Linked DNA regions of Homo sapiens: all the other regions are linked to region 4. Evidence: fine-mapped expression QTL. A gene starts in region 4. Each other region holds a variant in brackets. All regions are shown on one strand. Distances are between the middles of the regions.

What was found. PIP is the estimated chance that this variant, and not a neighbour inherited with it, causes the effect.
Region 1: its variant is fine-mapped to the expression of SENP5 in monocytes after R848 (Quach 2016, PIP 0.95).
Region 2: its variant is fine-mapped to the expression of SENP5 in fibroblasts (GTEx, PIP above 0.99). The same link has a PIP of 0.9 or more in blood mononuclear cells, lung and whole blood.
Region 3: its variant is fine-mapped to the expression of SENP5 in blood mononuclear cells (TOPMed, PIP 0.98).

Annotation. Positions count from the first base shown.
Region 1 is chr3:196,931,575-196,934,228 of GRCh38, forward strand. SENP5 (SUMO specific peptidase 5) reads left to right here. Exons shown (of 10, transcript NM_152699.5): 10 at 1-2,654. Among named protein-coding and RNA genes, the nearest start is that of NCBP2-AS1, 7.0 kb to the right of the region's middle. The variant G/T (reference allele first, on the strand shown) is at 1,446.
Region 2 is chr3:196,897,474-196,899,973 of GRCh38, forward strand. SENP5 (SUMO specific peptidase 5) reads left to right here. Exons shown (of 10, transcript NM_152699.5): 3 at 2,193-2,298; 4 at 2,451-2,500. Among named protein-coding and RNA genes, the nearest start is that of SENP5, 31 kb to the left of the region's middle. RefSeq lists an enhancer at 1,115-1,622. The variant T/C (reference allele first, on the strand shown) is at 1,498.
Region 3 is chr3:196,937,817-196,940,470 of GRCh38, forward strand. It overlaps NCBP2 (nuclear cap binding protein subunit 2), which reads right to left. Exons shown (of 4, transcript NM_007362.5): 2 at 1,435-1,616. It overlaps NCBP2-AS1 (NCBP2 antisense RNA 1), which reads left to right and starts at 2,061. Exons shown (of 3, transcript NR_046630.1): 1 at 2,061-2,311. The variant G/C (reference allele first, on the strand shown) is at 1,111.
Region 4 is chr3:196,866,524-196,869,177 of GRCh38, forward strand. SENP5 (SUMO specific peptidase 5) reads left to right here and starts at 1,397. Exons shown (of 10, transcript NM_152699.5): 1 at 1,397-1,550. RefSeq lists a silencer at 1,174-1,753 and an enhancer at 2,405-2,654.

The DNA.
Region 1 (2,654 bases), 65 kb after region 4:
GAGAAAAAGCAACCTTGGAGGCCAGTAACAATGACAGATTTCAATCGTGGTTTTAGGAATTATAATACGTGGCATACATCTCATAAAGGCTTTTGCTGGGATATTGAATTCCCTGAATTTTTCTGTTTTCGACCTGTTAAAAAAATCTTAACATCCATCAAACTAGTGGTCAAACAAATGAGAATGCAGCTGTTCTCAGAGTAATTTTTAAGTTGTCATTTCCCTGTGTTGCCTCCCAATTGGAAGAAGTTAAGGTTTACCAAATGCATTTCTATTTCAAGGGTATCTGAAACGTAAACATTCAAAACTGAAGGCTGACTGACTTGAGATGTTTTGCAGGTGGCTGGAGAGAAGAGGGAAGGTAATAGAGACAACTTAGTCCCATGGGAGCGCAGCAACCGTGTCAGGTTCTTTCTCCTGTCCCATTAGTGACCTCAGTAACATGCAGGGTACGTCTGGCTTCTGCATGGCCAGTGCTGACACTAGCACAGCTGTTCTTCTCCTTCTGTTGAACCTCATCTTCTGAAGAAAGGCCAAGTGGCCCTTGTCCATACACTTAGCTGCATTAGGATGAATATCACGCGTCTCACATCTTTAATCCAGCCTTTCGTGACATGTTGGAAAGATACATGTGAAACCTACCCAGTTACCCTTTCTGAATTGGGAGGAAAACCAACCAATGTATGTATGAGAAACTCAGAAGTCTGAATAGAAAAACAAAGTAAATGGCAGAAGATTCTCGAGTTTATGCCCGCGTAGGTTTGGAGTGTTGAAAAAGCTAAAATGTTTAGTTTCACTTGGCCCTGAGGTATGGTTGAGAAGGCTGACTGCCAGCAGTTGAGGATTGAGTCCGACCATGTTTACATGCAGGGTTCCCAACACCAGTGGTGACACTGGGAAGCAGCCCCAGCACTTTCCTCTCCTGAGTCCTCCAGACCCAAAATCCTTAATGTCAAACCAGGTCAGTGTTTCTTACTGTGTTTCAAGTCGTTAAAAAGACTGAGAGTAGAGGCACTTTATGCTGCTATAGGTGGGGTTCTGTCAGCGTTAGGAAAAAATGACAGTTTAGGGTAAGGAAGATCTCATAATGAGTTTTTCAAACATAATTATGCAAACATGAGATTTTTCAAAACATGCCAGAAATTTGCCTCTGATTTTTTTTTTTTTTTTTTTTTTTTTTTTGTGGGGGTGTGGTATACCAAAGTAGCCAGTCACTGGGCTGTCAGTTCAAAATGTCTTGTACTTCAGAGTGAGGAAGTGTTTCAGTTCCTCAGTGACAGAACCTGGCATGCAGAAGAGACAGAATTGTTCCTGTAAGAAAATCAACGCCGAGAGAGAGCTGCCCAAATCCAGTGACTCTTCCACTTCCAGTCTCATGCTTCATAGGGCACCTTGAGGTGTGCTGCCCAGTGTGGCTTAGACTAAATGTTGAGTTTGGGTTTTTT[G/T]TTTTTTTTTTTTTTTGAGTCAGAGTCTCACTGTCCCTCAGGCTGGAGTGCAATGGCGCAATCTTGCCTCACTGCAACCTCCACCTCCCAGGTTCAAGCGATTCTCCTGCCTCAGCCTCCCAAGTAGCTGGGATTACAGGTGTGTGCCACCACGCCCCACCGATTTTTGTACTTTTAGTAGAGACAGGATTTCACCATGTTGGCCAGGCTGGTCTTGAACTCCTGACCTCAAGTGATCTGCCCGCCTGGGCCTCCCAAAGTGCTGGGATTACAGGCGGGAGCCACCGTGCCTGGCCAATGTTAAGTATTTTAAAAGTCATTTTAAAATATTTGTCATTGATGAAACTTGGTTTCAGCACACGTAATTGCTTTCCCTCTCTTCTTGTGATTAGGTGTAAACCTCTATTTAACTCAAGTCCTAGATTAGAATGTCCTTTGTCCTGATGTTTGCAGTAATTGCTTCCTTGGTTAATAAAGATATTTTTGAAATATACTCTGGACTGTTGGTGAAAGAGGCAGGCATGGCTTTACTGGTACTAGTTTGGCACTGAACTGTTTGGGTGCCCATGAGGTAGGCAGACCTTATGCTTTTTTTTTTTGAGACGGAGTCTTGCTCTGTTGCCCAGGCTGGAGTGCAGTGATGTGATCTCGGCTCACTGCAACCCCTGCCTCCCAGGTTCAAGTGATTCTCCTGCCTCAGCTTCCCCAATAGCTGGGACTACAGGTGTGCGCCACCACTCCCAGCTAATTTTTGTATTTTTAGTAGAGACAGGGTTTTGCCATGTTGGTCAGGCTGGTCTCGGAACTCCTGACCTCAGGTGATCCACCCGCCTCTGCCTCACAAAGTGCTGGGATTACAGGCATGAGCTACCGTGCCTGGCCTAAACCTTACGCTTTTGAGGTTGAGTGCAGGCCTTGTGATAACTAAGCGCTACTTTTGACGAGCCTTCAACAAGCTGCCCAGTCCTCTCCTCAGCAGACGCATCAGGTTGTAGTTGCATCTTTACAGTGGTCTTTCCTTTTATTAAATCTATAGCAGTGAATATAGATTTGATTCAACTTTTAGTTACGTTCTCTCAAGAATCCTAATCAACTTTCAGTTAGCCTCTTAAGAAAGGGAAAAAAAGGTGCTGCCAGTCATCCCCAAATTATGTTTTTGGCTGTGCATTCTATTTTCTACATAGCACTGAATCTGAGTAACAGTCATCC
Region 2 (2,500 bases), 31 kb after region 4:
TGTTTACTGTACCCTGACCTTTGCTCCTATGTTAAGCCTTGAAAATTGAGAGGTACTCTGGTGGGAGATTAACAGGAGGAAAAATAAATTGTTCACTTCTTTGTCTGTCTCTCCCCTCATAAAAGACAAAACACTTCATTCCCAAGACACTCTTATCATCTTTTCTATCCTGTTTATATCAATGCATGGCAGAGGCCATTCTTGGAGTTACAAAGGGAGCTGGTTAAGATATGTGGCTAACAATCCTCATTTTTCCTGTCTTAACTCAGCAGACTTAACCGTCAGACTGATGGTTAGCTAATTTGTTGCTCTGCCCATTCAGCATTGGTGAACAACCTAAGTCATGTCTGTACTTCTGTGAGCGTCTAAGCCTTGCCTCAGCTTTTTTGTATTTACTTAGAAATAATGTCCTGGGTGGCCAGGCGCGGTGGCTCACACCTGTAATCTCAGTACTTTGGGAAGACAAGGCAGGTGGATCACCTGAGGTCAGGAGTTCGAGACCAGCCTGGCCAACATGGTGAAACCCCGTCTCTACAAAAAAAAAAAATACAAAAATTAGCTGGGCGTGGTGGCGGGCGCCTGTAATCCCAGCTACTCACGAGGCTGAGGTAGGAGAATCACTTGAACCCAGGAGGGGTGGGTTGCAGTGAGCCGAAATCGCACCATTGCACTCCAGCCTGGGTGAAAAGAGCAAGGCTTTGTCTTAAAAAAAAAGAAAAAAGAAAAGAAAGAACGTCCTGGGTTTATTTCCTGGGGCTTTTCTAGGTTCAGTGGATCATTCAGGGATATATATAAGCACATATACATGTTACTTACATTTACCTGAAGACTGTCCTATGGTGTGGCCAAAAAGCCACCTTTAAATTTTATTTCTCATCTTGGGAGGCTGGAGCGAAAGGATCACTTGAGGCCAGAAGTTCAAGACCAGCCTGAGCAACATAGCAAGACCCTCATCTTAAAAAAAAAAAATTAAAAAATTAGCTGGGTGTGGTTTCACTTGCCTATAGTCCCAGCTAACTATCCAAGCAGGAGGATGGCTTGAGCCCAGGAGTTTGAGGCTGTAGTGAGCTATGATTGTGTTACTATGCCCCAGCTGGGATGATAGAAAGAGACCCCATCTCCAAAAAATTCTATTTACTGTCTTAAAATGTGCTTCACTAGCTGGGTGTGGTGGCTCACGCCTGTAATCCCAGCACTTTCTGAGGCCGAGGCGGGCGGATCACAAGGTCAGGAGATCAAGACCACCCTGGCTAACACGGTGAAACCCCTCGATGATAGTTCCATTCGATTCTATGCGATGATTCCATTCCATTCCATTGGAAGATGATTCCATTCGAGACCATTCGATGATTGCATTCAATTCATTCGATGACGATTCCATTCAATTCCGTTCAATGATTCCATTAGATTCCATTTGATGATGATTCCATTCGTCTCTACTAAAAATACAAAAAAATTAGCCGGGCGTGGTGGCAGGCGCCTGTAGTCACAGCTATT[T/C]GGGAGGATGAGGCAGGAGAATGGCGTGAACCCGGGAGGTGGAGCTTGTAGTGAGCAGAGATCGTGCCACTGCACTCCAGCCTGGGCAACAGAGCGAGACGCCATCTCAAAAAAAAAAAAAAAAAAGTGCCTCACTAGCTGTTATCCAGTTGAGCTCACCTCACAGCGTTATTTGGTGTCATGAGTATAATAACTTATCAAGATGTATGATATTGTCCCTTGCTGATACTAAAGTACATACCTTTACCAAATAATAGAGTCACAGTGATCTCATCAGTTAATGCTAATTGTGATTTTAAAATAATAATTCTTTCAGTTACCAAAAGGATAGGCACATTTGACTATGTGATTAAGCCCTTTAGAAGTCACGCTTTAAGAGAAGGTTAAGCTGTGGGAAGCTGTTAGTATTTCCTTCTAGCTATCCATTCCTTCTCTAACAATGCTTCAGTAACTTAAAAATCTAATGTGAAATGATTCCTCACAGTATGTCTCTCTAGATTGCATTGGTTAGAGCCTAATATATTTTATTTTTTACAAAAGACATAACTTTAAAAATATAGTATCAATATTATATAGTAATATAGGTTAACCACTGTATGTGTTAAGTGCTGTGTATAGGTTAAGTGTTTGGAGAATGACTCTACTGAAAATGGCTTGTTTTTCCATCTTAACTTTTCTTTCTTCCTTTATTTAAGGATTCCTAGATGAGGTTATGAAGAAGTATGGCAGTTTGGTTCCACTCAGTGAAAAAGAAGTCCTTGGAAGATTAAAAGATGTCTTTAATGAAGACTTTTCTAATAGGTATATAAATGATGCTAAAGTTAAGCCCTTGAAAATAAAATTTTTGGCATATATGACTTTTCTCTTGATTTACAGAAGAAAAGATATTTAGCAGTAAATTGAGAAGTACTCATGTTTTTTTTACCTTTTGTTTCAAAATCTTTCTCTTTCAGAAAACCATTTATCAATAGGGAAATAACAAACTATCGGGCCAGACATCAAA
Region 3 (2,654 bases), 71 kb after region 4:
ATAGAGTCAAATATGACACGTATCCATGGCTACACTGATCATATTTCTTGGACATTCCTGTTGATAATTTTTGGTCCCATCATCTCTGTATTTTGGTTTGCAAGTTTAGATCACTGTACACTTCTTATCCAAGAAACCAGTGCTGTATATTCAAGTTAGGTTCTGTACATTCCAAGGCACCCTAATCAAGAGAAGGTCACCGTGCACGTGGAATTGTGCTGCACTTCACTAAAGGAAAGACTCAAGCTGTCACCAAGGTAGCAGTTCCCAAACCTACTTCATCAGAGACCTCCCTTTAATTAAAGGGGAAGACATTTAATCTCAGACAAATAAAAATAAGACAACAGTGTTCTGAATAAACCATCTGGAGAAACTAGTATCTTTGATGTTAGCAAGCCAAAATAAAATCTCTTTTCATTCTAGCATTTGGGAAACCTGTGTATCCCCGAGGCAAGCCTGCAATCTGGGAGAGAAGCCCTGCCTGGGTCCAGTGAGTCAGCATTCTTTTCCTTAATTATGAGCAGAAATCCAGGGATCACCAGACACTTAAGGAAAAATTTCAACCGAAACAAACATAATTCAGGGCACAGGAAAAAATTCAAAAGATATATTAAATTGGGCCTGCAAAATTTCTCAGAATATTAAATTGAATGACCAAAACATACAGTAAAAAGAACATAGGATAAATCCAAGAGGTCCAATACTTAAAAGAGTCTGAGTAAGGGAATTAAATGATCAAAGTAAATAGTTTTGGTTTGTACCTATACAGTCAGGTTATATACATCTATATAATGAAATACTATACAGCTATTTACTTAAAAGTTTTTTTCTTTAAAGATGGGGTCTTAACCCGTCACCCCCGCTGGAACACAGTCACAACTCAGTGCAGCCTTGAAATCTTGGGCTCAACTGATCCTCCTGCCTCAGCTTCCTGAGCAGCTGGCACTACAAACACCAGCCACCATGCCCAGCTGTACAGCTATTTTAAAAAAAGACCTACATATGCTGAAATGGAACAATAAAAAATAAAAAAATGATTTTAAAAACAGCACATGAAATACACTACCGCACACCCACAGGGTTACTTCTTGAAAGACGCCCAAGAAACTG[G/C]TAACTGACTGCCTCTGGCAAAGGGCATTAGGGGTTTAGAACAGTACGAGATTTTTATATTTTCACTACATTCTTTGGAATTTTTTTTTTTTTACGTGAAGGGCAAACATTCTTGAAAAACTTTTTGTTAAAGAACCATAAAGCATGGATTTCAGAAGAGAATATAAATAGTATCAGCTTTACAGTATAAGGGCAGAGACACACTGGGTGGAAAGTAGGAGGGAGATGAAGGAAAACGTAGGGACGAGTGCAGGGACGCTTATGAGCTACCACTCTCAGCTCTACCCTGGTTCAGCAGCTACATTAGATCCATGGGAAGGATACTCCACAAAACAGAATCCACATGCTGTTTTCTTCATTTTATCCAGACCCATAATGATTTTCTTTATGTCACCACTTTTGCTGAAGAGTTCATAGATTTGTTCTTCAGTTGTGTAAAAAGAAAGATTTCCAACATATAACGTACAGCTTTTCTTCAGTAATTTTTCTTGTTCTTCATTGTCACCCTAGAATTTCAAATAGAGACAAAAGTTAAGCAACTTCAGAGCCTTGCTTAAATAGTATTTCTAAGTACGGTAGAGACATTCATTAATTCTGGTTTGGAAATCAACTTCTCTCATCCCAGCCTACCAGAAATCCCTTGCCCAAAAAGGGGGATGTCGACCTTCTGTGAAGCACTTATGCGAAGTCCAGACTCTTAGTAGAGACAGGGCTCAAAAGTTATACCACATACAACAAAGTCACTTCTACGCCCGACTGCCACGCAAGCGGCTTCCCTTTTCCCTGCACACACCATATCCTCAGCAGTGCATCCTTTAAACCCAAGTGTAGACTCTGGACCTTGACCCAATATATGACAAAGGGCCCTTTTATCCTTCGTAGTGAAAAATAAGTGGGTTTTCAGAGAGAGAGAGAGTTCCTCTTTAATAACCCCCTAGAGACTGTTGAAAGCCACAACCTTGATGCTTTACGTGCTCATAGATCTTTCTCTGAGTTTAGGGGAAAATGTAGTGATCACTAAAAACAAAACAGAGCTCACTTTCTTAATGGGCTTCCAAATTGGGATGACAGGATGAAGCCAGAGACTTAAGCATATAACTGGGCTTCATCCAACACACCTGACAGACAAAGCCCTGGGTCCAAAATGGCTCATCGGGGTCAGGCGCGGTGGCTCATGCCTGTAATCCCAGCACTTTGGGAGGCTGAGGCGAGTGGATCGCCTGAGGTCAAGAGTTTGAGACCAGCCTGGCTAACATAGTGAATGAAACCCTGTCTCTACTAAAAATACAAAAATTAGCTGGGCATGGTAGCAGCGGGCGCCTGTAATCCCAGCTACTCGGGAGGCTGAAGCAGGAGAATCGCTTGAACCTGGGAGGTGGAGGTTGCAGGGAGCTGAGATTGCACCACTGCACTTGAGCCTGGACAACAAGAGTGAAACTCTATCTCAAAAAAAAAAAGTCCACAGGACAATAGTCATTGTATGTTAAAAAGAGGTTTTCGGAACTTTGGAGTGAGACATTAGAGAAAGTAAATTCCTTTCATTT
Region 4 (2,654 bases):
GATCGAGATTATCCTGGCTAACTTGGTGAAACCCGGTCTCTACTAAAGAAATACAAAAAAAATTAGCCAAGCGTGGTGGTGGACGCCTGTAGTCCCAGCTACTCAGGAGGCTGAGGCAGGAGAATGGCGTGAACCCGGGAGGCAGAGCTTGCAGTGAGCCGAGATGGCGCCACTGCACTGCAGCCTGGGCGACAGAGCGACACTCCTCTAAAAAAAAAAAAAAAATCACTGACAAAGAGAAACTGTTAAAAAGAAGTGAGAGGGCCTGGTGTGGTGGTTCACGCCTGTAATTCGAGCACTGTGGGAGGCCCAGGTGGGAGGATCACTTGAGCTCAGGGGTTCAAGACCAGCCTGGGCAACATAGGGAGATGTCATCGCTACAAAAATAATGATAGTAATAGTAATAAAAAATTAGCCGGGCGTGGTGCAGGAGCCTGTGGTCGCAGGTACCCTGGAAGATGAGGTGGGAGGATCGCTTGAGCCCAGGAGGCAGAGGTTACAGCGAGCCTAGGGTGTGCCACGGCACTCCGGCTTGGGCGAGACAGCAAGACCCTGTTTGGAAAAAAAAAAAAAAGAAAAGAAAAAAGAAAAAAAAATCAACAGTAATTGCAGCCATTGCTTAGAACTAAGACTAAACAAAGCTTTTGTTTGGAAAGGAGTACTTTTTCATTAACATTGTTTAGAATTTTCTGACACATGATGATAATTAAAAGCAAACCATCCTGCAGTTGGCTTCGGTATTGTTTTTATCTTCTCCACCATCAATGCATATCCTTACTGCCTACACAGGCTCTCAGCAACGCACTGTTGGTTTTCCATTGCAGTCACCTCCACTTTATTCTTCCAGATCGAGTATGTTCAAAACTGAACTCATCTTCCGCCATAAATCTGCTATTATTATGTTTTTGCCTGTCAGGACATCGGCTTATAATTTTGGAAAGCATTCACAGTTGGGGCGGGTAAGACATAGATAAAGAGGCCAATCACAATACCAGGGGTAAGATCAATAGGAAAACCAGAGAGCGGACGCCTGGGCCAGGCCTCACAACGTCCAGAGCTGGAATGGGTCTTTTGCTTTCGGCGCAGGGGTGACGGGATCAGCGGAGGGTAGGGGTGTACACTAGCTGCGGTCTGATTTAGCCCTTTTAGGTTAAAAGCTGGAGAAGGGGCTGAAGTCTCAAACGCGCTTAGCAGCTCCTGAACGCGGTTCCCATCCCAGCGCGTTCTGAGGGAGGCCGGGGCTAAGGACGCGGTGACGGGCGGGGGCGGGGCGGCCCCGGGTCGGGAGGCGGGGCGGGAGCGCCGGAAGCGGGCGGTGCCAGGCCCAGCCTCGCAGGCGGAAGGGCGCGGAGGAGGTGACGCGATAGGCCAGCGCCGGCGTCGCGGCAGCCGCTTCAGAGGAAGCTCGGCGGCTGTGGCCGCGGCGAACAGGCCGGACGCCTCGTCGCTGGCGGGGCTTCCCTTGGAGCTGACGAAGGCGGGGTCCGCGGTCCAGGCTGCTGCCGCGACGGGGCCGGCGGCGGGGCAGCTGCCAGGAACGAGGGTAGCAGGTAAGCGGGGACGCGGGCAGACGAGTGACGGACTCAGCGATCGCCTGGCGGGGCTGGCTGGGGCCATTCCCGCGCCGGTGCGCCACCTCAGCGCCCGGTCCGGAGGCCTCGAGCCGCCCTCCCCCGCCCGAGCTGGAGGCCGCCGTCCGTCTCGGCCACAGCCTCCCTTTCCGGGGGAGGCGAGCGAGCTCGTCCCGAGGGGCCGCTGCCCTGCGCTCTCGCTCCAGCCGGGCTGTGCGTCGCAGGCACCGGGAAGCTGGCGCCCCCCAGCTCCTCCTGAAGCCGGGAAAGCTCTGAGAGGAGGAGCCGCTGTCACAGGCCTCCAGCTCCGGCCGCCGTGGAAGTCCGGGGTTTTTATTTGCTTAGACCGCTCTGCCTCCTTCCGGCCTTCGTTTCTTTCCTCGCGCTCCCCGGGACCCTTTTCCAGAGAGCCCGGTTGGGCATGAGCGCGGTGGGAGACGTCTTTTCCCTTCGGTCTGCTCTGAGCGGTATCAGCCTCCGCTCTACGCCCTGTGGCCACTCTGTCGGGGTGGAGGGATGCGGAGAGGATGTGGGAGTTTTGGACTTAGAGCGAGAATAGCCGAGGTGAAATCCTACCCTGCTCTCTGGTAGTGTTTTTCATCTCATGCTAGATAGACATTTCGACCTTTTTCACCGCAGGTAAAGTGGGACTTTCTTCTACCAATGTAAATTATAATGTTTGGAGAATTAAATGAAGAAAGCAGACGTTAGTTATGAAATGTTTTGAGAATCTGGTTAAATTTAATTTAAGAATATCCAGGACACTTCATGATAGGTTCCTACTTATGTTTTTTTTTTGCATTTTGCCCGGAATAACTAAGCTTGGTATGGAAAAGGTTGCCTAGAGATGCCAGGCGCTCGTGTGGTCAGAGCCTAACTGCAGTCTCTGTTTTGGGTGGGCAGCATCAGGAAGAAACCAGACTCTCTCCTAGCCATCCACATGTCTCACGCTTATTGATGGCATATTATTGGTATATGAGGGATGGCTTATATCAGTTTTGATCTTTACTCAAGATAGCTTTTTCCCAGTGCATCTTTTCTAGGAGAAAAGCTTGGTATGTAGAGGAGGGTGCTGGGGAGGGG